7 linked regions of the Homo sapiens genome follow. The protein of the gene in region 5 purifies or fractionates together with the protein of the main gene of each other region. This does not show direct contact. Each region holds a gene or a part of one and is shown on either strand. Other genes may lie near its edges. The genes, in order: CLPX, MTHFD1L, PNPT1, VWA8, QRSL1, IVD and ACAD10.

Region 1 (3,500 bases), on a different chromosome or scaffold from region 5:
TGTACATGATTTTGGTCTAAAACCCTAGACCAGTGTTAGGGTCTAACACCCCCAGCCAGTGTTAGTTAACAACCTAACTTTAGAACTTAAAATCCCATGTAAAACACAACAAAACTGCACATGACAATAAATTTAAGCTTTTGAAATATTTGTTTCTAAGTCAATCTTTTACATAAGTTCTTAAATACTGTTACTTGTTAACATTTAAATAACATTAAATCACTACATATATTACATGACATGTCTTTCAAAATATGCACTACAGACTTTCTTTACTAATTTAGTATAGGTTAACTAGCTGTCAACACAATTTATGAGTATGGTATTGACTGCATATCTGAATATATTTTTTTATTATGAAATAAATTACATATATACCTAAAGGTTATTATTTAGATTTTACATTCTTATATACAATCTAATTCTATTGCACTTACTGTATTTCTTAATTTTACCACGCATGGTATAATCAGTATTTCTATAAATTTAAAAATAACTGGGGATAATGTAATTTTATTACATGTGATAAATGTCATGCCCAAGTTGGTACACAAGTTATATTCTCATGGCTCATCCTATATATAGTACACTTCAAATAGTGGATATATAATACTACTTGGTTCAAAGGCAAATGTAAAAACATCAAACTTAGCTAATTTTCTTTATTTCAATTACTAAAACAAAAGGCCATGTGAATCTTTCTATGACACCCCTGGAACCTCCACCCTCAATGCAGCAACTAACTATATCCACCTCCAAAGGAATAGGTGGAACACAACAGAAAGGCCACTCTCCTTGGTCTATCAAGTCCTTCCACACCCTCCATCGGACCATCTGATGCTTGTAGGGGCAATCTGGGGCTGGAAACAGTGAATTAAGACTTACTCATAATTTGTAAGACTGTAAGTTTCATAAATACAAAAAAAACCAAAAAACAGTGTGCTTTCTGGCAAAGAGTAGCTAGAAAATAATCTGCCTCCCCCAAATTCCTGTGACCCACAAGAAGCAGGCCAACTCTAATTGTAGTTTGATAGAAAAAATAAAAAATAACCCAACATATGGAAACGACACAAATTAGCTATGAAAAACTATTCCAAAGTTATATATACCATGTAGGATAAACACATTTAGATAATACGTATCTTTCTTGGTAATACACAAGCAAATACATACATGTCTATCACTGTTACTGCTGAAACACTTCACTGAAATAAATGTCAAAAGGAAGAATGATTACAGAGGAGGACCTGAAGTCACTTACTTGTAAATCTGTACTCATCCTCCCGTCTTCTTATTTCTAACTCTAAGAAAGAGGATGAAAATATTACATATTTGTTTACCTTGGGGGAACAAACAATGAGTATCCCACCTCCTGTCCTCTTTCAAATATATTTAAAGGATTTGTTCATTAACATTTTTCAGCTTTTCATATATGCTATATCTTTTCTATATTAAAACAAAACCATGCATAAAGACCGCTGTCCAGTTGCTAATATTCACATTTGTCAAATATATAATTGATATCTATTGTAAGGGTATAATAACATAAGTCTTTAATAAGAGTTTAAGCCCCTCATGCTATAAATATTATAACCATTTGCTCCTCCAGCACTTAGAATAGCTTAAATATCTATTTATTACCGAGGAAAACAAAAAAGTTTTGCTCCATAACTATCAGTGCTATTTGGACCTTATAAAAATGAAGATTTCAGGCCAGGCGCAAGAGTTCACGCCTATTAATCCCAGCACTTTGGGAGGCTGAGGCAGATGGATTGCTTGGGAGACTGAGGTGGGAGGATCACTGGAGCCTGGGAAGTTGAGGCTGCAGTGAGTCGCAATCCAGCCTGGGTGACAGAGAGAGACCTTGTCTTGAAAAAAAGAAAAAGGTTCCAAGTCATCCGTTAGTTATGACTTATACTTTCTAAAAATAACTGATACCATCACATACCTATTTTGCAGTTATGTGATGTAAGTTCAGCAAGTGAACAAGTGTCTTCATTGAAATAAATTATACATTTAGTTGCTACTAAAGGCAATCAAAGATAATGTAGACTTATAAATTTAAGTACTTAGCAGAACTCCTTCACACTGTACAGTGATAACTAAAAGAATCTAAAATGATGGAATATAGGCCTAAATCAGAAATTGGGGCTGTCTGGCCAACAAAACAAAAAATTAAATATTCATATTTACTCTATGCATAATTGTTTTTAATAAATCATTCTATTAATATACATTATTGTCCATAGTAAATTGAGATTATACAGTATACTGTATAATGACTACAGCCATGTGCCACCCCACCTGGCTAATTTTTGTATTTTTAGTAGAGACGGAGTTTCCCATGCTGGCCAGGCAGGTCTCGAACTCCTGACCTCAAGTGATCCCCCCGCCTCGGCCTCCAAACGTGCTGGGATTACCGGCATAAGCCACCATGCCAGGCCTAAGAAATAATATTTACCTTAACTGTAAGTTAATGTATTCTGTTATTTTCTATTCATATCTATCAAATTTTTAAAAAATGCTGTTGGCAAATGATTTCATAACACACTAATGGGGAATAACCTGCACTTTGAAAAATGCCACACTATATAAAAAACATTTTAAGAAGAAAGTGAGGAGTTACAAATAAAGATTACTTTTAAGCATAGCAATCTCTATTTAGGTCAATTATCAAAAACGCTACCTCTTGGTGTTAATGATGTCTGCTTCTCAACCTCTGCTTGCTGTCTCAGATTAGCTGGGATATTATTATATATTCTCTTATAATGATTGTACACAGCAACTGAAAGCACCTTCTTAGCAAATGACTGGCCAACAACATACTTGTCGAGGTAGTTATAAATCTGAAAAATGATTAGGTATGAATAATTTAATATGAGCTATTATAAGAGCACACACATTAAAAAGTTATTTACTAAGCATATTTGCTTACAGTTTTAAATCTGAACAAAGACTCTCATTAAAAACAAAATGACAATACATTATATAGCAATGATTCAGAGGCCCTGAACACTAAATGAACAAAAACACAATTCATTTGTTCTCTAGCTTAACAAAGTATCACTGTACTCTACTAGTGTTGTGCTAATTTCTATTCTATAAACAATGCTATCAATCTTTATTTTTTGATAACAAATTAAATTTAAAGTAACTTAGAATACATACACATGCCACCATGGTCTAAAAGTATCAACATTAATGTAAATCATTAAAATAAATCCATACCTGTCAATCAAATGAATAACATTCTTCACAAAGATAACATTATAAAACTACTCTTTTCAGAAACAGGCATTACATAATCAAAAGCCATTATACTATCAGTATCTATGTGTTTTAGTAAATTTAATTTTTTCTCAGACATTAACTTTAAAGCTACTCATTTATCTGAGACTCTAAAAACTGTATTCTTATTTTTTTTTATTTTCTAAAAATATATTTTTTTCTTTTTTTGATACAGGGTCTCACTGTGTCGCCAAGGCTGGTCTTGAACTCCT
Region 2 (3,500 bases), about 44 Mb from region 5:
AAGCAAATAAAGTGGGAAGAGGGATGTGAAGACAGGGGATTAGGGGGGTGAAGACAGGGGGCTCACTGTTGGACAAGAAGTGTCGAGACAGGATAAATTCCAGGTCCTGGAATTTAAAGAAGGAATTAGGTAAGGAAGGAAGGGGAGGAAAGTTCCAGAAACACTGGAGACCCACTTTGATAACACTATCAAAGCCTCCTAGAGAGAGAGACAGAGAGCTTCTCAGTCCTCTGAGAATCCACAACATAGTCTGCACCTGTACCTCCTAAATGCCCAGCAGCAGCCACCTTCACCTCCCACCTCTGAGGGAGGTGCCAGCCTGGGGTGAGCAGGCCTAGGTAAAAGTGGTAGAAGGCCTGGCATGGTGGCATGCACCTGTAGTCCCAGCACTTTGAGAGGCCAAGGCGGTAGGACTGCTTGAGACCAGGAGTTTGAGACCAGCCTGGGTAACATAACGAGATCCCATCTCTATAAACAATTTAGCTGGGCGTGATGGCACGTGACTGTAGTCCCAGATACTTGGGAGGCTGAAGCTGGAGGACCGCTTGAGCCCATGAGTTTGAGGCTGTAGTAAGCTATGACTGCACCACTGCACTCCAGCCTGGGTGGCAGAGCAAGACTCAATTTCTTTTTAAAAAAAGAAAAAAAAAAAAAGTCCAGGAGCGGTGGCTCACGCCTGTAATCCCAGCACTTTGGGAAGCTGAGGCGGGTGGATCACAAGGTCAGGAGTTCAAGACCACCGTGGCCAATATGGTGAAACCCCGTCTCTACCAGAAATACAAAAATTAGCTGGGTGTGGTGGCAGGCGCCTATAATCTGAGCTACTCGGGAGAATCTCTTGAACCTGGGAGGCAGAGGTTGCAGTGAGCCGAGATTGTGCCACCGCACTCCAGCCTGGGCAACACAGCAAGACTCCGTCTCAAAAAAAAAAAAAAGTGTTAGGAGCTCAGCTCTTTATGGAACCTTCTGGGATGAGTGACTGCAGAGGCTACCTTCGCCACCACCCTATGATATGTTCTCAGCAGCACATGAGCACTGGGAGCTGGCTTTTCCCCCTCTCACAATAGACCAAAGGCGCAGCCACAGGAGCCCCCAGGCTTCAGTGCTAAGACCACCTTTACATTTTGTTTTCAGTCTCCGACAGGGTCTTGCACTGCACCTAACAAAAATGCGGGGTGAAGAAGTTCCAGCCAATGCCATCAACGGTACACTGCCAAGAGCAGAAAGGCATCGGGAAGCTTTCCCCAGTTTTCAGAGAGACACAGCTGACAAATGGAACCAGAGGCACTGCAGTTCCCAGGCGGGGCTTTAGGGGAGAGAGCTGCTCAGATTCACAACCAGGACCAGTCTTTCTACTGCCAGCTGGGCCGGAACAGATGGACTGGGTGCAGGCAACTGTCTATAACCTGGGAACATTTCAGTTAGTTTTGTTTGGAAACACTTGGGATAAAGCTACTTCATTCCCAGGGAATTAATTGTATTATTGTGCTGAATAAATGTGACCATATGGGAAAGTTTACAAATCACCTTATAAATAAGCACTAAAATCCATCCATCCAATAATGGGTGACTGAGGCCCATATACCGCACTCTTTCCAGCCTGTCGTGACTGTTAATTTGGCTATGCTGGGTTCTTATTTTTGTCTGGGTCCAGGAAAGCACCGGAGTGTGGGACCCAAGCGGTTCATGGTATAAGGATCACTGGAGAGTTTGGTAAAAGTAAAGGTTCCAGGCCAGGTGCAGTGGCTCACACCTATAATCCCAGTACTTCGGGAGGCCAAGGTGAAATGGATCACTTGAGGTCAGGAGTTTGAGACCATCCTGGCCAACATGGTGAAACCCCATCTCTAGTAAAAATACAAAAATTAGCCAGGCATGGTGGTGCACACCTGTAATCCCAGAGCTACTCAGGAGGCTGAGGCAGGAGAATCACTTGAACCCAGGAGGCAGAGGCTGCAGTGAGCCAAAATCATGCCACTGCACTCCAGCTGGGTGACAGAGCGAGACTCTGTCTCAAAAAAAATAACAGTTCCAGCCCTAGAAAGTCTGATTCAACGTGTCTCAGTGGAGCCCAGAAATGTGCATTTTTAACAGAGTCCAGGTAATTCTGAGACACTAAGTGGAAATACGGCCCAGGATTGGTACTGGGCATTTCATTTACTAGCGTGGACAAGTCTCTAAGAGTCTCAGATTCCTCATCTGTAAAACAGGTATACTACAGTGGCTCTTTCCCCTTTTTCTTATAAATGTACGTTTGTTTTTTTCTGTGCCCCAAAGCTACCCTTAAACACTAAAAACATTCTTACTAACAGCAATAATTTTCTCAGAAACATTCATAGTCTTGATCCATTCATAGTTGATGAAAGGAACACTTCTTTTTATTTTTTTGAGACGGAGTCTCACTTTGTTTCCAGGCTGGAGGGCAGTGGCACGATCTCGGCTCACTGCAACCTCCATCTCCCAGGTTCAAGCGATTCTCCTGCCTCAGTCTCCTGAGTAGCTGGGACTACTGGTGCATGCCACCACGTCCCACTAATTTTTGTATTTTTAGTAGAGACAGGATTTCACCAAGTTGGCCAGGGTGGTCTCGATCTCTTGACCTCGTGATCCGCCCACCTAGGCCTCCCAAAGTGCTGGAATTACAGGGGTGAGCCACCTCGCCGGGCTGAAAGGAACACTTCTATAGGTAAGTCGGCAATCGTCAAAAAGTAATTAGACTTTTAAAATAGTTGGGGATGGGGGCTGGGCGCAGTGGCTCATGCCTGTAATCCCAGCACTTTGGGAGGCTGAGGTGAGAGGATCACTTGAGCTCAGGAGTTCAAGGCCAGCCTGGGCAAGATAGCAAGACCTGGTCTCTACCAAAAAAAAAAAAAAAGTTGGGGGGTGGATGTGGATAGAAAAAAAAATACAGGCATACATCATTTTTTGTGCTTTGCTTTACTGCAATTTACAGATACTGTGTTTTTCTACAAATTGAAAGTTTGTGGCAACCTGTGTTTTAAGTCTATGGGAGTCATTTTTCCAATGGCATCTGCTCAATTTGTGTCACATTTTGATAATTCTTACAATATTTCAAACTTTTTCATTTTTAGTATGTTTGTTCTGGTGATGTGTGATTGACGATCTTTGATGTTACTGTTGTAATTGTGTTGGCCAAACCGTGGCCATGATGGTTCATGATGGTGTGTGTTCTCACTGCTTCACTGGACTGGCTGTTCCCCCTTCTCTCTCCCTCTCCTCTGGCTTCCCTATTCCCTGAGAAACAACAATATTGAAATTAGGACAATTAGTAACTACAGTGGCCTCTAAGTGTTCAAGTGAAGAGTTGCAGGTCTCTCACTTTAAATAAAAACCGAGAAATAATTAAACTTAGTGAGGAGGGTGTATTGAAAGCCAAGATAGGTCAAAAGCTAGGCCTCTTGAGCCAAACAGTTAGCCAAGCTGTGAATGCAAAGGAAAAGCTATTGAAGAAATTTAAAAGTGCTACTCCCGTGGATACA
Region 3 (3,500 bases), on a different chromosome or scaffold from region 5:
AAAAAAAAACACATTAAACCGTACTGACAGAGTTGCTTTACAGTTCAAAACGTTTGAACTAATATAGATAGCCATTCAATATGTTTTCAAGAAAAATCCCCTTGGACTGATTTACTAAGAGGGACACAGATAAATGTCAGTGCTTCCATTATTACATACCATGCCCTAACAACAAAAAACAAACACAGAAGAAGCACATTAACAATAAAGATTGGGGAGCAATTTTTCATTCTGGTTCCACAGGCAACAGTTACATATATAAGCAGAGCAAAGAGACTTAAGACCAATAGCAGACCAAAAGAAAATGCTTCCTTGCTACTTTGTGTCTGAAGACTGTATATAAATATACATAAAATAGCAATTTCTGGCCGAGCACAGTGGTTCACGCCTGCAATCCCAGCACTTGGGAGGCTGAGGCGGGTGGATCACGAGGTCAGGAGTTCAAGACCAGCCTGACCAAAATGGAGAAACCCCATCTTGACTAAAAATACAAAAATCAGCCAGGCATGGTGGTGGGCACCTGTAATCCCAATCACTTGAACCCGGGAGGTAGAGGTTGCAGTGAGCCGAGATCGTGCCACTGCACTCCAGCCTGGGTGACAGAGCAAGACTCTGTCTCAAAAAAAAGCAATTTCTGGGTAGAAGAGCTATAAATTACATATGATCCCACAATATGTAGGGATGTTAAAGATTTGAAAGATTATGGACATATTTCAGTAGCTGATGAACATAATGTTTAGGAATTACTATTCTGAACATGAAAAAATGTACTAGGAATAGATTCAACAAAGTAGAGGCATGGGCCAAAAAATTCATATGCTCAATAGAGATTTACTCATTTAGTCAACAAATATTTATTGAATGCCTATTCTGTGCTAAGCAGTATAACAGGTACTAGGGATTCAACCCTGAAGAAATAAAAGTTTTTTCTTTCACAGTGCCCACATTTGAGTGAGGGAAGAGAAGGAGTGAATAATCTTAGGTGGTGTTAATGCTATGAAGGAAAACTTAAGACTTATTGTAGAACACAGATGCAAGAGAAGAGATGCTAACATAGGCATACCAGAGAAGATGAACGCCTCTATGTTAATATCTTACCTATTATTCGACTTGTTAGAATTTCTTTATCAGAAGTACCAATCTCTCTTCTCAGATAGTTTGTGGGAATTCTACCTGCTGCAGCAGCTTTTTGTCTGTAGTCAACCTGAAGCAGCAATAAAAAAAAGTTCATATAATTCTTTTTGCAGAAACAAACTATACTGTATGAATGCTAATTCTCCTGAGGTTGCTAACAACACAGTCTAGACTCAGAGTAGAAAATGTTATTTACTTAGCATTTTGTATCTTTTGGGGAGAGGAAAGTTGATAGAAATGTTTCTGCAAAGTGATTTTAAAAAACGTTCAGGTGCAGTGGCTCACGCCTGTAATCCCAGCACTTTGGGAGGCCAAAGCAGGAGGACCACTTGAGGCCAGGGTTTTAGAACTGCCTGGGTAACACAGAAAGACCTTGTCTCTACCCCCAACAAAAAAAAAATTAGTTGGGCACAATGGCCTGTGCCCATAGTCCTAGCTACTCAGAAGGCTGAGGTGGGAGGATTGCTTAAGCCCAGGAGTTTGAGGCTGCAGTGAACTATGATCACACCACTGAACAACTCTAGCCTGGGTGACAGAGCAAGACCCTGTCTCTTAAAAAAAAAAAAGTCTTCTACTCAACAGTAAAAGTGGAAGAAGACTCACTATTTGCCACAGATGCTCATTCTGATCAAGTCAAACATTGCTTTTTTTTGGTATCAACTCTGTTAAATATAATTGTACACCCCTTTTCATAATAGAAGGGAGCTATAAAATTCTCATGAGCTCATTACTAAATATACACAGTTGTCTCTTGGTATCCCTGGGGGATTGGTTCTAGGACCTCTTGCAGATATCAAAATCCATGGATGCTCAAATCCTTGATGTAAAACACCATAGTATTTGTTTATAACTTACGTATATCCTCTCATATACTTTAAATCATCTCTAGATTACATATAATCCTTAATACAATGTAAATTCTACATAAATAGTTTTTATACCGTATTGCGTAGGGAATGACAAGAAAAAAAGTCTGTACATATTCAGTACAGATGCAATTTTTCCCCCAATATTTTCGATCCATGGTTGGTTGAATCCATGGATGCAAAACCCAAGGACATGGAGGGCTGACTGTACTTGCAGAGTCATACTGAAGGGAAACTATGAGGGCAATGAATTCATTGCTTATTCAATGTCAAAGTACTCATGCACTTCCAATCTTCTTGTCAACTTACGCACCTGGACGTTCCAAATTCTAAAGTATGCTTAATCCTAGTATTTGTTTATGAAGCAGTTTATACTCTTTTAATGAATCAGTATCAAAAAACTAGGAAAAATTCTTTGTTGTGCAAGTTTGTATTTTCCACTCACTAGACACTGGACAAAAATATTATACATTCTACACTTTACTCAGACCATATTACAGTTCAGATAAATCAGCAAATACTTACCACCAAAGGCATAAACTGGGAAGGGGAAGGTTTTGTTTTACTGACCGCTGTGACCATTACTGCAGTGTCACCTGACTTAAACATAAAGAACAACGCTGGTAAGTTCCTTTGAAATCAGATATTAGCATCTAAGTAGCAACTGAATAAATCCTTACTCCAATTAAACTCAAGAAAAGATATCTAATTCTACGACACGATTATGAAATAAAAAATATTCACAAGTAGTCCAATCTTGATCTCTGAGCTTTTCAAAAGCTATGGAATCAAAATAAGGAAAGATTAACAGGTAATTTAGTCATATTCAATGAATTGAATAGTATTCTCTACTTCTTATGTGGCTATACATAAGGAAAAATTCCCCAATTATTACTATAGAAGAAAATACCAAAATCACTTTCTCTAGAAAAGCACAACAGAATTTATTAACGCATAAAACAGAAGCCCAAGTTTGGAAAGGATGTTAAACGTCACTTAATACGGCTGGGCACGGTCGCTCACACTTGTAATTGCAGCACTTTGCGGGGGCAAGGCAGGTGGATCACGAGGTCAAGAGATTGAGACCAGGCCAGGCGCGGTGGCTCACGTCTGTAATCCCAGCACTTTGGGAGGCTGAGGCAGGCGGATCACGAGGTCAGGAGATCAACACCATCCTGGCTAACACGGTGAAACCTCGACTCTACTAAAAATACAAAAAATTAGCTGGGCGTGGTGGCAGGTGCCTGTGGTCCCAGCTACTAAGGAGGCTGAGGCAGGAGAATGGCGTGAACCTGGGAGGCGGAGGTTGCAGTGAACCGAGATCGCGCCGCTGCACTCCAGCCTGGGCAACAGAGTGAGACTCCATCTCAAAAAAAAAAAAAAAAAAGAGATCGAGACCATCCTGGCCAACATGGTGAAACCCCGTCTCTACTAAAAATACAAAAATTAGCTGGGTGTGGTGGTGCACGCCTGTAGTCCCAGCTACTCGGGAGGCTGAGG
Region 4 (3,500 bases), on a different chromosome or scaffold from region 5:
CAGGTTAAAACCAATTACCATCATCATTTATTTTTATGCTCAAATTGTCCCAGATTTCAGCCACTTCAACCTGGGAACTCCATCATTTTGACATATCGACATCATTTGTTGAATATTTCCTTACTCTCTGGCACAAAAAGATGGTCCAGGCTCATCTTCTGCATTCCCTGACCTAATCCTTTTAGAGAGCATGGTATTTAGAAACCAATGTCCAGGTACTTGGTATGATCACTGCTACTAGAACATCATAGTTTTTTTTTGCCGGGGGGGGGGGGGGGGGGGTAAGGTCACAGATCAACAGGATAAGAATTTTTCTTAGTACAGAACAAAATGAAAAGTCTCCCATGTCTACCTCTTTCTACACAGACACGGCAACCATCCGATTTCTCAATCTTTTCCCCACCTTTCCCCCCTTCTGTTCCACAAAACCGCCATTGTCATCATGGCCCGTTCTCAATGAGCTGTTGGGTACACCTCCCAGACGGGGTGGTGGCCAGGCAGAGGGGCTCCTCACTTCCCAGTAGGGGCGGCTGGGCAGAGGGCTCCTCACTTCCCAGTAGGGGCGGCCGGGCAGAGGCGCCCCTCACCTCCCGGACGGGGCGGCTGGCCGGGCTGGGGGCTGACCCCCCCACCTCCCTCCTGGACGGGGCGACTGGCTGGGCAGAGGAGCTCCTCACTTCCCAGTAGGGGCGGCCGGGCAGAGGTGCCCCTCACCTCCCGGACGGGGCGGCTGGCCGGGCGGGGGGCTGACCCCCCCACCTCCCTCCCGGACGGGGCGGCTGGCCTGGCGGGGGCTGACCCCCACCTCCCTCCCGGACGGGGTGGCTGCTGGGCGGAGACGCTCCTCACTTCCCAGACAGGGTGACTGCCGGGACGGAGGGGCTCCTCACTTCTCAGATGGGGCGGCTTCCGGGCGGAGGGGCTCCTCACTTCTCAGACGGGCGGTTGCCAGGCGGAGGGTCTCCTCACTTCTCAGACGGGGCGGCCGGGCAGAGACGCTCCTCACCTCCCAGACGGGGTCGCGGCCGGGTGGAGGTGCTCCTCACATCCCAGACGGGGCGGCAGGGCAGAGGCTCTCCCCACATCTCAGACGATGGGCGGCCGGGCAGAGACGCTCCTCACTTCCTAGATGGGATGGCGACCGGGAAGAGGCGCTCGTCACTTCCTAGATGGGATGGCGGCCGGGCAGAGACGCTCCTCACTTTCCAGACTGGGCAGCCAGGCAGAGGGGCTCCTCACGTCCCAGACGACGGGCGGCCAGGCAGAGACGCTCCTCACTTCCCAGACGGGGTGGCGGCCAGGCAGAGGCTGCAATCTCGGCACTTTGGGAGGCCAAGGCAGGCAGCTGGGAGGTGGAGGTTGTAGCGAGCCGAGATCACACCACTGCACTCCAGCCTGGGCACCATTGAGCACTGAGTGAACCAGACTCCGTCTGCAATCCCAGCACCCCGGGAGGCCAAGGCTGGCGGATCACTCGCGGTTAGGAGCTGGAGACCAGCCCGGCCAACACAGCGAAACCCCGTCTCCACCAAAAAAATACGAAAACCAGTCAGGCGTGGCGTCGCGCGCCTGCAATCGCAGGCACTCGGCAGGCTGAGGCAGGAGAATCAGGCAGGGAGGTTGCAGTGAGCCGAGATGGCAGCAGTACAGTCCAGCTTCGGCTGGGCATCAGAGGGAGACCGTGGAAAGAGAGGGAGAGGGAGACCGTGGGGAGAGGGAGAGGGAGAGGGAGAGCAATCCTATTTTTTTAACTAAATATGAGAACATCATAGTTTTTAGGCTGCCTTAGGAGACAGCTAGAAAATATGTGTATGTATACATATACACATACTATCTCTATCTATTTGTTCATATATATTGTTTAAAAAAAGTCATGATTCATAATAACACCAATTCCAATCCAATACCTTAGAGTTTTTTCTTGCCTTCCCCCTTTCCATGGTTATAAATCCCTCATCCAACAGTGAGAAGCATAACTCTTATTATCCTTAATATATTCATTCATTTGCTCAATCTATTTACTTATTTGCTCAACATAACCAATCTCCCAATCACACCAGCCCCTGTGTGTTTGCTGCCCTATTTATCACAGCTGTCTTCTTGTTGGAATGCTGATACCTCCATGCCTGGTAAAGAATGGAGGGGAAGGGAAAGGAAAGAAATAAGGATGGGGAGAGAAAAATAGGAAAGGTGGGGAAAGGAGTGAGGGGAAGATGGGAAAAGGCAAGGGAAGGGAAAATGGGAAAAGAAAGGAAAGAAAGGGAAGCAGACACTCACCTTTAAAACACCTTCCACAGCCATCTTCCCTTCATGACCTAGTAAAATACTATATGGATAAAGCCACTGGATTGCATGTTTGATTGGCATCATAGGAAAGGAATCCTATGTAGGAGCAAAAATACATAGGAATGAGCAAAATTCAAAATAATCACAGAAAACATCTGAAATGTACATATGACATTAAAATTGACTTATAAAAGTAACCAATAGGTGTCTGGTATTTTCTGTAAGTCTACAAAAGCAAATATTCATTATTTTCTCTTCTCATTCCTTGCCCTTTCTCTGGGTAAGCTTACCCATTCCCATCTTTCATTTATCTTCTATGTATTGATGGCTCCCACACTTCTATGTCTGGTCTTGACTTCTTTCTTGAGCTCTAAACCTGAACCCTCAATTGTTCATTACATGTGACTATATGAATATCCCATAGACCCCCATTTGAAACAGAATACATGTCTCTACCTTATTCATCCCAAAGTACCTGATCCCTTTTTATTCCTAAGTTAATCTCATCCACATTCACTTAGCTTCACAGTTATAACTACAAAATTAGAAAGTATTCATTATCCTCAAATCCTTCCTCACATTATCTGCACTGTCAATTCTGTTCACCCCACTTTAAAAGTCTGTTGACAAGAAAGATTAGTGAAATTTCAATATGAACTATCTATTAGATGATACTATGGATTACTGTTAACATGATATGAAGTGTGATAATGTTGTTCTGGTTATGTAGAAGAATGTCCTAATTCTTAGAAGTTGCATACTGATATGGTTTGGCTGTGTCCCCACCCAAATCTCATCTTGAATTGTAGCTCCCACAATCCCCACGTGTCATGGGAGGGACCCAGTGGGAGACAACTGAATCATGGAGGCAGTTAACCTCCATGCTGTTCTCATGATAGTGAGTTCTCATGAGATCTGATGGCTTTATAAAGGGCTTTTCCCCTCCTTCACTCTGCACTTTTCTCTCCTGCCACCATGTGAAGGACGTGTTTGCTTCCTCTTCCACCACGATTGTAAGTTTCCTGAGGCCTCCATAGCCTTGCAGAACTGTGAGTCAATTAAACCTCTTTTCTTTATAAATTACCCAGTCTCAGGTATTTCTTCATAGCAGCGGGAGAACGAACTGATACACACACTGAAGTATTTAAGAGTACTGACTGCAATTTACTTCCAAATGGTTCAGGAAAAAAAAAAAGAAAAAAGCACATGCAAAC
Region 5 (3,500 bases):
GAAATGGTTTTACTTGTTAATAAGATTTTAGGAAAACTGAAAAAAAATCTGTAGAACTCACATCTCCATAGCTCTAAAAAAATATAAATGATTTATGGATTGCAATGTGTGTGAAAGAACTTAGTTTTAATGGATAATTAAGGGGAGATAAAATACAAAACTATTACTAAAGAAACACATTCATTTTGATTAAATTGAGACTGATAAACACAGCAACAGCCATATTTACTTTCTTTTCTTTGGGTAGTTAAGAAATGCTTTACAAATGGAACTGAAAATATGATCAATGGATTCTTACCAAATACAAAGTATGATAGATAAACAGAATCAGCACCTAACAAGCTTGAAAAAACTTTACTTACTGATGTACATTTTTAATTGCAGATTCCTGAAAACACTATTTAAAATATCTTATTAATACATATTAGCATTTTTTCTTTTTTTTCAAAAGATTGATCTTGCTGAAGGATAAACATTACCAACAGTTTAGTTCAGCAGCACTCAACTAAAGCCATTGTATGTTAGTCCCTAAATATTTGTATAATCAGTGAGCACACACTCAAATTATTTAAAAATGAAATGCAATGAAGTTCATTTATGTTCGATGCTTTATTCTGCAAGATCCACAAAATCATATTTTAAGAGAACCAGATACTATGGAGAAAAATTTGTTATTTTAAAGTTAAAAGTATTAAATATACATAGTGTACTGTACAGTTGAGTGCAACTCAAGATATAATTTTGATATACCTTTGAGCACATATAGCTCACTAGAAAGAAAAATACCAGGATATGAACTACTCTATTGCTGGATACAGTTTATGACTGTTTGTATTTGGGTGGGTTTTAAAATACAGATAGAGAAAAGCATCTTACGCGTAGCATGTGAACGCCGATACAGCAGCTGCACTCCCACCTGAGCTTCCTCCAGTTATCAGCCAGTCTGAATCTTCATTCTCGCTGTGGGGATTCTGCTTCCTCTTTTCTCTATATTGTTTTGAATAACTCCAGGGGTTTTTAACTGGTCCAAATACACCATCTGTGCTCCCAGATCTGATGACGAAGTGAAGCAAGATACCTTAGTAAAACTTTCATTTTATGTGAAAATTTCATCTTCTGAGTATATTATTTGCTTCTGACACTCATTGAGCATTTAAGAACCCACTGTAGCTTGAATTGAAAAAGGTGGGAAGCCTGTTCAGATGTAGCTTTCATTAATTGACAGTTGCGGAGGATGGGAAGGAAGAGCATTTGTGGTAGAAAATAGACAAAGCTAATCTGCTAAGAAAAGATTTTGCCTCTTTTGATCATCCAATTCAACTGAAGATGATTTCCCTTGTGAATCAAGGTCTTCCAGCTGAAAAGGGTTACATTCAAACAGTTAAGAACTTCTGAACCAGAAGTTCTATGAAAAACATTACAAGTGGAATGCTAATAACTTAAATTTTTGAAATGATTTTATTCTCAGATAAATTGCAAAAATAAAAATAACATATAAAGCACTTTATACCCTTTACCCAGACATACCTACGGTCAACATTTTATCCCTTTGCTTTACTACTTGTGTGCTCTGTGTACGTTTGTACATATGTACATATATACACAAAGTATGATAGAAACTTAAGGGTATCTTAAGGGTAACTTACATGTATATCATAGCCCTTTATCCCTAAATACTTTAGTGTGTATTTCCTAACAATAAGGATATCACATTATACAGTCACAGTATAGTTATCAATCTCAGTAACATTAATATCAATACAATAATTTTTTTTTTCTTTTTTGAGACGAGTCTCGCTCTACTGGCAGTCTGGAGTGCAGTGGCGCGATCTCGGCTCACTGCAACCTCCGCCTCCCAGATTCAAGCAATTCTCCTGCCTCAGCCTCCCGAGTAGCTGGGACTACAGGTGCGTGCCATCACGCCGGGCTAATTTTTGTATTTTCAGTAGAGACGGGGTTTCACCACGTTGGCCAGGATGGTCTCAATCTCTTGACCTCGTAATCCACCCGCCTTGGCCTCCCAAAGTGCTGGGATTACAGGGGTGAGCCACCACGCCCGGCCTACAATACTTTTATCGAATCTACTGTATGTAATTCAATTCTGTCAACTGATTCAATAATGTACTTTGGCTGGGTGCAGTGGCTCACGCCTGTAATCCCAGCACTTTGGGAGGCCGAGGAGGGCGGAACACGAGGTCAGGAGATCGAGACCATCCTGGATAACACGGTGAAACCCCATCTCTACTAAAAATACAAAAAATTAGCCGGGCGTGGTGGCGGGCGCCTGTAGTCCCAGCTACTCGGGAGGCTGAGGCAGAAGAATGGTGTGAACCCGGGAGGCGGAGCTTGCAGTGAGCCGAGATCGCGCCACTGCACTCTAGCCTGGGTGACAGAGCGAGACTCCATCTCAAAAAAAAAAAAAAAAAAAGTACTTTATGGCATTTTATCTCCTTCCTGGATCAAATCTAGAGTCAGGTCTTCCATTTAATTATCATTGTCTCTCTCTTTTTTTTTTTTTTTTGAGACAGTCTCGCTCTATTGCCCAGGCTGGAGTGCAGTGGCATGATCTTGGCTCACTGCAAGCTCCGCCTCCCGGTTTCAAGTGATCCAGGTTCAAGCGATTCTCATGCCTCTCGAGTAGCTGGGACTACAGGCATCCACTACCATGCCTTGGCCTCCCAAAGTGCTGAGATTACAGGTGTGGGCCACTGTGCCCAAGCTCACTGTGATTTTAATTTTGAATTCCACTAATGATCAACGATATTAAGCATTGTTTCATGTGTTTGTCAACTATGTTTTAATCTCTGATGAAACGTCTTCTTAAATCTTTTGTTCATTTTTTAAAAATAGGGTTGCTTGTTTTCTTATTGAGGTGTGAAATGTTCTATGTATTTTGGATATCGGTTCTTTCTGAGATACATGTTTTGCAAATATTTTTCTCTCAGTCTGTGGCTTGCGTTTTCACTTTTTTAGTAGCATATTTCAAAGTACAGAAGTTCTTAATTTTAATGAAGTCTATTAATTTTTTTTTTTTTTTTTTTTTTTTTTTTGAGAAGGAGTCTTGCTCTGTCACCCAGGCTGGAGTGCAGTGGCGTGATTTCGGCTCACTGCAACCTCTGCCTCCCGGGTTCATGCCATTCTCCTGCCTCAGCCTCCTGAGTAGCGGGGACTACAGGCGCTCGCCACCACGCCCGGCTAATTTTTTGTATTTTTAGTAGAGACAGGGTTTCACTGTGTTAGCCAGGATGGTCTCAATCTCCTGACCTTGTGATCCACCTGCCTCGGCCTCCCAAAGTGCTGGGATTACAGGTGTGAGCCACCGTGCCCGGCCAAGTCTATCAATTTTTTAAGTGGATTTGTGCTTCATGTGTCCTATCTAAAAGAACTCTGACTAATTCAAGGTCACTAATACTTTTCCCTGTTTTTTTTAATTTTTTTTTTCTGTAGAGACAGGGCCTCACTATGTTGCCCAGGCTGATCTAGGACTCCTGGGCTCAAGC
Region 6 (3,500 bases), on a different chromosome or scaffold from region 5:
TGGTTCCTGCACCATCACCTGTAACCCATCCTTCTCTCTTCTGCCCCAGCTCACCATTGTGTTCTGCCCACTCATTCCCACACTTTTCAATTTCTCCCTCTATTTTCTTTTTTCTTCCCTTTTTTTTCCTTCTGACCAAAAAATCTGCTCAGTTCTCTCATTTCTAAAAACAAACCCAAACTCCTAACTTTTCATTGGAACTCCTGCTCTGCTTCCTTCTTGCTTCTGTTGTCAAGGCTGTTGCAGGGGCAGTCTCCACTTGCATCCCACCCACACCTCAGTCTCCCATGGCCACATTCATCAGATCCACCAATGGTACCCTGACCGTCATGTCCTGACCTCCTTTTAGTCCTCCCCTTTCTAGACCTCTTTGTGTGGCCTGGCGCTGAGGACGGCTCCACCGTCTTCAGAAGTGACCCATCTGCCCTGGACTTCCTGGACTTTTGGTCACCCTCCTTGCAGTCTGCTCTCTGCCTCACCCCCACCTCTGGGGGCCTTGCAGAGCACACAACACTGATTCCATTTGAGATCAGTGAACGGGCTATCTCTGGTACCACTGTCAGGAGGCAGAAGCCTCCTGGCCCTGCACCCACCTATACTCACCTTCTCCACAATGAAGGCTGTGATGCCCCGAGAAGCTGGCACAGCAGCCAGATCTGTCTTGGCATAGACAATCAGGACGTCAGCATCAGGGCCATTAGTGATCCAGAACTTGTTGCCATTCAGGATGTAGTGATTTCCTAAGGGCAGGATGTTGGCTATTTGCTCAAGCCATCTTGGCCTGTCTCAGCCAGGCCATAGACCTTCTGCTGAGCAAGAAGCTGTCCACCTTTGAGAAAGTTCTGGAAACCCAGCAGGGGCCACCCACAATTGTTGCTCCATTATCCTGATAATGTCTGTACCTCTGCCCATTTTGGCTCCCAAGTTGAGAGTGGCCTCACCTTTCTTTTCCGCTTTGAGCTTCATAGAGACAACATCAGAGCCTGCATTGGGCTCACTCATGGCCAGGGCTCCGATGTACTCACCACTGATCAGCTGCAAGGAAAACCCCCAACAGGCCTTGTTACAACCTCAGAGTACCCTAGAGCAGCTCACTGGTACTGCCTCTTCCTGTCCACATTAAACCCCTTCAAACTTCGCTCTCAGACCAGGGTGTCGGTAAAGTCCTAGAAGTCTCTTCTAAGCCCAATGGCTACAAGGCTGAAAATGCCTCTCCTTTTTCCATTCCCTTTGCAAAGGAAGCTAGTCCTACTCTTCCATTTCTTAGAGTTCTCTTCAAATGTTGTCTGTCTGTTGTTCAATGCAAGAGTTCTGGTCCTATTTTTATTATTTTTGGCTCAAGTATTTTAAAGCAATCCATGGCCCCTTCCTAACCACATTTGGTTCATGGCAGCATGCTACAGAAAGCAGGTCTGACTGGCCCCCAAGGGGAGAGGGTATCTTTTAGTTGGTGGTTGCACTGTGAGATTAGCGTGTATTACATTTCCATTTCCTCACCTTCGGGAGATACTTCTCTTTCTGGGCCTCATTCCCATTGCGTACAAGCTGGTTGATGCAGAGGTTGGAGTGGGCACCGTAACTGAGCCCCACTGCTCCGGAAGCTCGGGATATCTCCTCCATCACCAGCACATGCTCCAGGTAGCCCAGGCCGGAGCCGCCATACTGAACTGTGAGTGGTGTGGTACAAGGGAGTGGAAAACGCAGCCCAGATTAAATCGGGACATTCATTAAGAATCTTACATTTGACGGCAGAAGGGAAGCACCTTGTAGCACCTACTCCAAATTCTCTCTAGCAACAAGAATAAGCTGATGCCACAGACCTGCTTACAAGCTCAGTGGACTGGTTTTGCCTGCTGGTGCTCCTCAGCTGAGGGGTGATTCAGAAGGCAATCATTGCAACTTCTGCTTTATCCCAGACAGACTTCTTGATGAAGATACGTGAACAACCTGAGCACCCACTACTCAGAAAGTTACAGAAATGCAGAGGCAGATGAATAAATGAAGAAAGAGGGCCTGGAGAAAAACAAAGGCATTGGGGTGGAGGTGGTGTCCAAAGCACCAAGAACAGATACAAAGCCAGAGGATCTGATGTGTCTGCAAAAGGCCTGAGGAAGGTGAGATTTTATAGCATAGGGCTGAACCCAAAGAAGCAGGACTGGAGGCCAGGCATGGGGCTCACGCCTGTAATCCCAGCACTTTGGGAGGCTGAGGTGGGCAGATCACGAGGTCAGGAGATCAAGACCATCCTGGCTAACACGGTGAAACCCCGTCTCTACTAAAAATACAAAAAATTAGCCGGGCATGGTGGCGGGCGCCTGTAGTCCCAGCTACTCGGGAGGCTGAAGCAGGAGAATGGTGTGAACCTGGCAGGTGGAGCTTGCAGAGAGCCGAGATCGCGCCACTGCACTCCAGCCTGGGCGACAGAGTGAGATTCTGTCTCAAAAAAAAAAAAAAAAAAAGAAAGAAGCAGGACTGGTGACAGGACAGGAGAGCCACAGCCTCAGGGAAAATCTTGAGGTGAGCTGTACAGCAGAGGGCAGATGAGATGCTGGCAGAGAATTTCAGAACTCCTCATAAAATATACGGTTTTTCCTTGGCAGCAGATCCAAACTCCAAGTGGCTGAGACACCTGATACCACCCCCAGCCCTGCTGATTGGGTCAAGCCTAGCAAGGTCCTATACACATGTTCACTCTGACCAATAAGTCAGGCTCGTTCTAGGCTCTAAGGAAACCTTGACCTGCCCCTACAACTGCAGGAAGGAAAGCCTGAAGGCAGGTGACATTAGAAACAGCCACCATGACATCATGCAGAAACCAGAACTTGTAACCAGCTTTCTTTTTCAGGTTCCCTTGAAAGAGTTTTCATCTGATTTCTTTTCTTTTTTTTTTTCAAGAGGCGGGCTCTCACTCTCTTATCCAGGCTGGGGTGCAATGGTGTAACCATGGCTCATTGCAGCCTTGAACTCCTGGGCTCAAGCGATCCTCCTGCCTTGGCCTCCCGAGTCACTCGGATTATAGGAGCCCACTACCACACCTGGCCATTTTCATCTGATTTCTAACTGCCTCTTTCTTCCGTAAAATACAATCTGATTCAGAAGCATATTGTCTGCAGGGAGTGGGGTACATAAACCCCCAAAACACAGTAGGAGAGTCTTGCTTAGGAGTACCCAGCAGCCTTTCCCCTAATGCTTTTACATTAAGATGGTTTCAATTAATCTTCAAGTGGTTTCATTTTATGAAAGGTGATATAACTTTCTAGGATGTAAGGAGAAGTATATTGGGTTCCACTCATACTCTCATGCCCAGAGTGAATACAGGCCCAAGCAGGCTGGGCTTTTTTTTTTGAAACGGAGTTTCGCTCCGTTGCCCAGGCTGGAGTGCAGTGGCACAATCTCAGCTCACTGCAACCTCCGCCTCCCAGGTTCAAGCAATTCTCCTGCCTCAGCCTCCCGAGTAGCTGGGATTACAGGGATGTACCACCATGACCAGCTAATTTTGT
Region 7 (3,500 bases), on a different chromosome or scaffold from region 5:
CACTGAGGTCAGTTGTGGGTGTGATTCGAAGTGCCTGTTGGAGATGGGTTAGAGATGTCTGGCTGGCCCCTCTGAGCTCCAGGATGGAGGCCTGGTTGGGAGGCAGTGCAGGCAAGTAACGCCCTGTGCCTTCTTCCCACACAGCCTCAGCCTCACCATGTGTGTCAGGAGCTGTTTCCAGTCCCCCCGTCTCCAGTGGGTGTGGAGAACAGCCTTCCTGAAACACACCCAGCGCAGGCACCAGGGGTCCCACCGATGGACACACCTTGGAGGCAGCACCTACAGAGCGGTGATTTTCGACATGGGCGGAGTTCTCATTCCTTCTCCAGGGAGAGTCGCTGCAGGTGAGCTATTGATTCTGTTTCACTTTGTGGGACTAGAGTGGTGGTGGGAGAATGGAGGGTGATCGGGAAGGCAGAGGGGAACACTTGGGCAGCAGTGTGTCCCAGCAGGCCATGCTCTGGCTCTCGAGTCGAATTCCAAGCACCACTAGGGGGCTGAGTGTCTTGGGCGCATGATTCAGCTTCTCCAAATCTTACTTTCCTCATCATTAAATGAGCTAATGGTAGTGCCTTCCTCCTTGGGATTTGGCGGAGAGTTATCCGTGGGAAGCACTTGCTTAGCACAGTGATTGCTCAGTGCATCCTAAATTCTCAATCAATGATGAGCTGCCATGAATGCTGTGATTAGAATTTAACCACCAAGGCAGGGCACAGTGGCTGAAGCCTGTAATCCCAGCACTTTTGGAGGCCGAGGTGAGAGGGTCGTTTGAGCCCAGGAGTTCAAGACCAGCCTGAGCAACATAGTGAGACCCCGTATCTGCAGAAATTTAAAAATTATCTGGGCATGATGACAGGCACCTGTAGTTCTAGCTACTCAGGAGGCTGAGGTCGGAGGATCACATGAATCCAGGTGGTTGAGGCTGTAGTCAGCCGTGATCATGCCACTGCACTCCAGCCTGGGTAACAGAGCAAGACCCTTACTCAAAAACAAACAACCAAAAATCCCAAAGAATTTAACCACTTCTTCTTGGGAACTGTTCTACTTCTGAAATCTAGAATGCTGAAATTCCCCTTTTGATTACAGCCTTCCTCCCTTCTACCCCACTCCCTCTAAACCTGCTTCTGGACTGACAGGGTAAGGGTCAGCCCTCTGGTCTCTGGTCTTCTCTTTACCAGCCCCTTCCTGGTTTTACTTCTTTTCTACTCAGTTCAGTTTTTATTAGTTAAAGTCGTTTTGGCTTCAAGCAGTAGAAAACCTAACAAAACAGTGACTGAAACAAGCTAGAAGTTTCTTTCTCTTGCACATAAAAGCCCAGGTATGTGGTCTGGGGCACTGTGTGATGCGACTCTGTGGTATCAGGGACTCCGACTCTTTATAGCATGTTGCTCTGCTGTGACTTTTCATTTCCACTCTTACATTGTGGTCTGTCTTGGCTGTGTCGCCTCCTGCTATCATATTCTCATGCCAGCCAGCAGGAAGGACAAAGGGCCAGGCAGCCATCCCTCTCCTTTTGACCTTCTGTGGTGGCTGGTTGGCCAGTTCTCCATCCTAAATCAACCCAGGCACAGGTTTTCTATGCCTGCGTGTCTAGGCTTTCCAGCACTGCTGACCAAATTACTCAGCCGTGCTAACTGGCTGCACAAGCTGGTTTCTGAGCTCCAGCCTCAGTTGGGCCATTGGTGCTACGCCTGAGCCTCTCTGTTCCTTCACTCTTATCTCTCTGTTCCTTCACTCGTATCTCTGTCATGTTTACCTCAGGGGCTGTTCCAGACTGTCCACTCCCCCTGCTCCTTACCACCCCCAAATATTCTTGCTCTGCAGATAGCTGAATCTGTTCTTCTACAAAGAACATAAAGACTAAACCTGAGCAACACAGTGAGACCCTATGGTGAGCTAGGATTGCACCACTGCACCCCAGACTGGCACAACAGTCTTTTTTAGAGAACCTGTCTCTAAAAAAAAAGGCAGCAGGGAAGAACATAAAGATCACTGGACAGAAAGTTTCTTGACTTTCTCTAGAATATCTTAAGAACCAATTCACTTCTCTCCATTGCCACTGCCTCCACCCTTGCCTTCTCTCACCCAAATGATGTCATCAGCCTCCTAACTTCCTCTGCCTCTGGCTCTCTGGATTTTACAAAATCTCCTCCCAGCTCCAGAATTAACCTTTCTAAAACATGGATCGTGCTTCTGCGCTTAGCAGCTCACACCTGTAATCTCAGCAATTTAGGAGGCCGAGGTGGGCAGATCGCTTGAGCACAGGAGTTCAAGACCAGCCTGGCCAACCTGGTGAAACCTTGTCTCTACGAAAAATACAAAAAGCGTACCTGGGCATGGTGGTGCATGGATGTAGTCCCAGCTACTTGAGGGGCTGCGGTGGGAGGAACTCTTTAGCCTGGGCGATTGAGGCTGCAGTGAGCTGAGATTGCACCACTGCACTCCAGCCTGGGTGACAAAGTGAGACCCTGTCACAAAATAATAAATAAAATAAAAATAAAGCATAGATCTTGTTCCTTTCATCCCTGGCTTGAAAATCTTGAATGCCTGCATGTGGTCCCCTAGATTAAGTCTAGAAGCTTTCACCTGGGATTCAGGGCTCCTCTCAGTTTTAGCTTTCCTGCTATGGACTACCTGATGCTCCCCAGGCATGCCAGGCACATTTGCATGTTTGTGCCTTTGCAAGCTGTGTTTCCTCCCTGCCTCCTCTGCCTGTTCAAATCCTACTGATGCTTTTAATGGCAAATTTAAGGGGATATTATTCAGCAATGACTGGAATCTTTTGAACACTCAGTAAATCTCATGGTTGTTACTAACTTCAAGAGTCCTCTTCTGTCAAGACTTCTCCAACCTCATTTGCAACCTGGGCAGAATGTTCCTGGATAGCCAATTCCCATTAAGTTTCACCTTCACCGAGATATTTTTGTTTGCAGTGGGATATGTTCATGTCTCCTCTATGGGGCTCTTGGATTCCAGGACCCCAGGTCTGGGATTTCTTCACTTCACTGTTGCAGTGTTAGCTCTGCAGGCTGGCTCAGTCATTCAGGAAATGTTTGATGGGTAAATGTGAACAAAATAGTGATGCCTTCTACTTTGTCTTTTGCTTGACTGGAGCTTCTAATGTTATTTATTTCAAATGAACCATATCAAGGGTCATTTGATAAGAATATACTAGAATTGGCCAGGTGCGGTGGCTCATGCCTTTAATCTCAGCACTTTGGGAGGACGAGATGGGCGGATCACTTGAGGTCATGAGTTTGAGACCAGCCTGGCCAACATGGCAAAATCCAATCTCTACTAAAAATTCAAAAATAAGCGGGGCATGGTGATGGGCACCTGAAATTGCAGCTACTCTGGAGGCTGAGCAGGGAGAACCACTTGAACCCGGGAAACAGAGGTTGCAGTGAGCTGAGATCATACCATTGCGCTGCAGCTTGGGAGACAGAGCAAGACTCTGTCTCAAAAAAAAAAAAAGTATATATATATATACACTAGAATTA

Evidence for each region.
Region 1: the proteins of QRSL1 (region 5) and CLPX purify together in Homo sapiens (affinity purification with mass spectrometry; one large-scale study listed by BioGRID and IntAct). This does not show direct contact.
Region 2: the proteins of QRSL1 (region 5) and MTHFD1L purify together in Homo sapiens (affinity purification with mass spectrometry; one large-scale study listed by BioGRID and IntAct). This does not show direct contact.
Region 3: the proteins of QRSL1 (region 5) and PNPT1 purify together in Homo sapiens (affinity purification with mass spectrometry; one large-scale study listed by BioGRID and IntAct). This does not show direct contact.
Region 4: the proteins of QRSL1 (region 5) and VWA8 purify together in Homo sapiens (affinity purification with mass spectrometry; one large-scale study listed by BioGRID and IntAct). This does not show direct contact.
Region 6: the proteins of QRSL1 (region 5) and IVD purify together in Homo sapiens (affinity purification with mass spectrometry; one large-scale study listed by BioGRID and IntAct). This does not show direct contact.
Region 7: the proteins of QRSL1 (region 5) and ACAD10 purify together in Homo sapiens (affinity purification with mass spectrometry; one large-scale study listed by BioGRID and IntAct). This does not show direct contact.

The regions. Positions count from the first base shown.
Region 1 is NC_000015.10:65,161,343-65,164,842, forward strand, and holds part of CLPX (ATP-dependent clpX-like chaperone, mitochondrial precursor), read right to left. Parts: intron 2,847-3,500; coding exon 2,687-2,846; intron 1,304-2,686; coding exon 1,262-1,303; intron 1-1,261. UniProt on the Homo sapiens protein: ATP-dependent chaperone that functions as an unfoldase.
Region 2 is NC_000006.12:150,872,202-150,875,701, reverse strand, and holds part of MTHFD1L (monofunctional C1-tetrahydrofolate synthase, mitochondrial isoform 2 precursor), read right to left. Parts: intron 1-3,500. UniProt on the Homo sapiens protein: May provide the missing metabolic reaction required to link the mitochondria and the cytoplasm in the mammalian model of one-carbon folate metabolism complementing thus the enzymatic activities of MTHFD2.
Region 3 is NC_000002.12:55,683,845-55,687,344, forward strand, and holds part of PNPT1 (polyribonucleotide nucleotidyltransferase 1, mitochondrial precursor), read right to left. Parts: intron 2,601-3,500; coding exon 2,526-2,600; intron 1,205-2,525; coding exon 1,099-1,204; intron 1-1,098. UniProt on the Homo sapiens protein: RNA-binding protein implicated in numerous RNA metabolic processes. Catalyzes the phosphorolysis of single-stranded polyribonucleotides processively in the 3'-to-5' direction. Mitochondrial intermembrane factor with RNA-processing exoribonulease activity.
Region 4 is NC_000013.11:41,881,110-41,884,609, forward strand, and holds part of VWA8 (von Willebrand factor A domain-containing protein 8 isoform a precursor), read right to left. Parts: intron 2,383-3,500; coding exon 2,278-2,382; intron 1-2,277. UniProt on the Homo sapiens protein: Exhibits ATPase activity in vitro.
Region 5 is NC_000006.12:106,646,578-106,650,077, reverse strand, and holds part of QRSL1 (glutamyl-tRNA(Gln) amidotransferase subunit A, mitochondrial), read right to left. Parts: intron 1,054-3,500; coding exon 877-1,053; intron 1-876. UniProt on the Homo sapiens protein: Allows the formation of correctly charged Gln-tRNA(Gln) through the transamidation of misacylated Glu-tRNA(Gln) in the mitochondria. The reaction takes place in the presence of glutamine and ATP through an activated gamma-phospho-Glu-tRNA(Gln).
Region 6 is NC_000015.10:40,408,795-40,412,294, reverse strand, and holds part of IVD (isovaleryl-CoA dehydrogenase, mitochondrial isoform 1 precursor), read right to left. Parts: intron 1,668-3,500; coding exon 1,498-1,667; intron 1,036-1,497; coding exon 942-1,035; intron 741-941; coding exon 604-740; intron 1-603.
Region 7 is NC_000012.12:111,692,553-111,696,052, forward strand, and holds part of ACAD10 (acyl-CoA dehydrogenase family member 10), read left to right. Parts: intron 1-144; 5' UTR 145-157; coding exon 158-344; intron 345-3,500.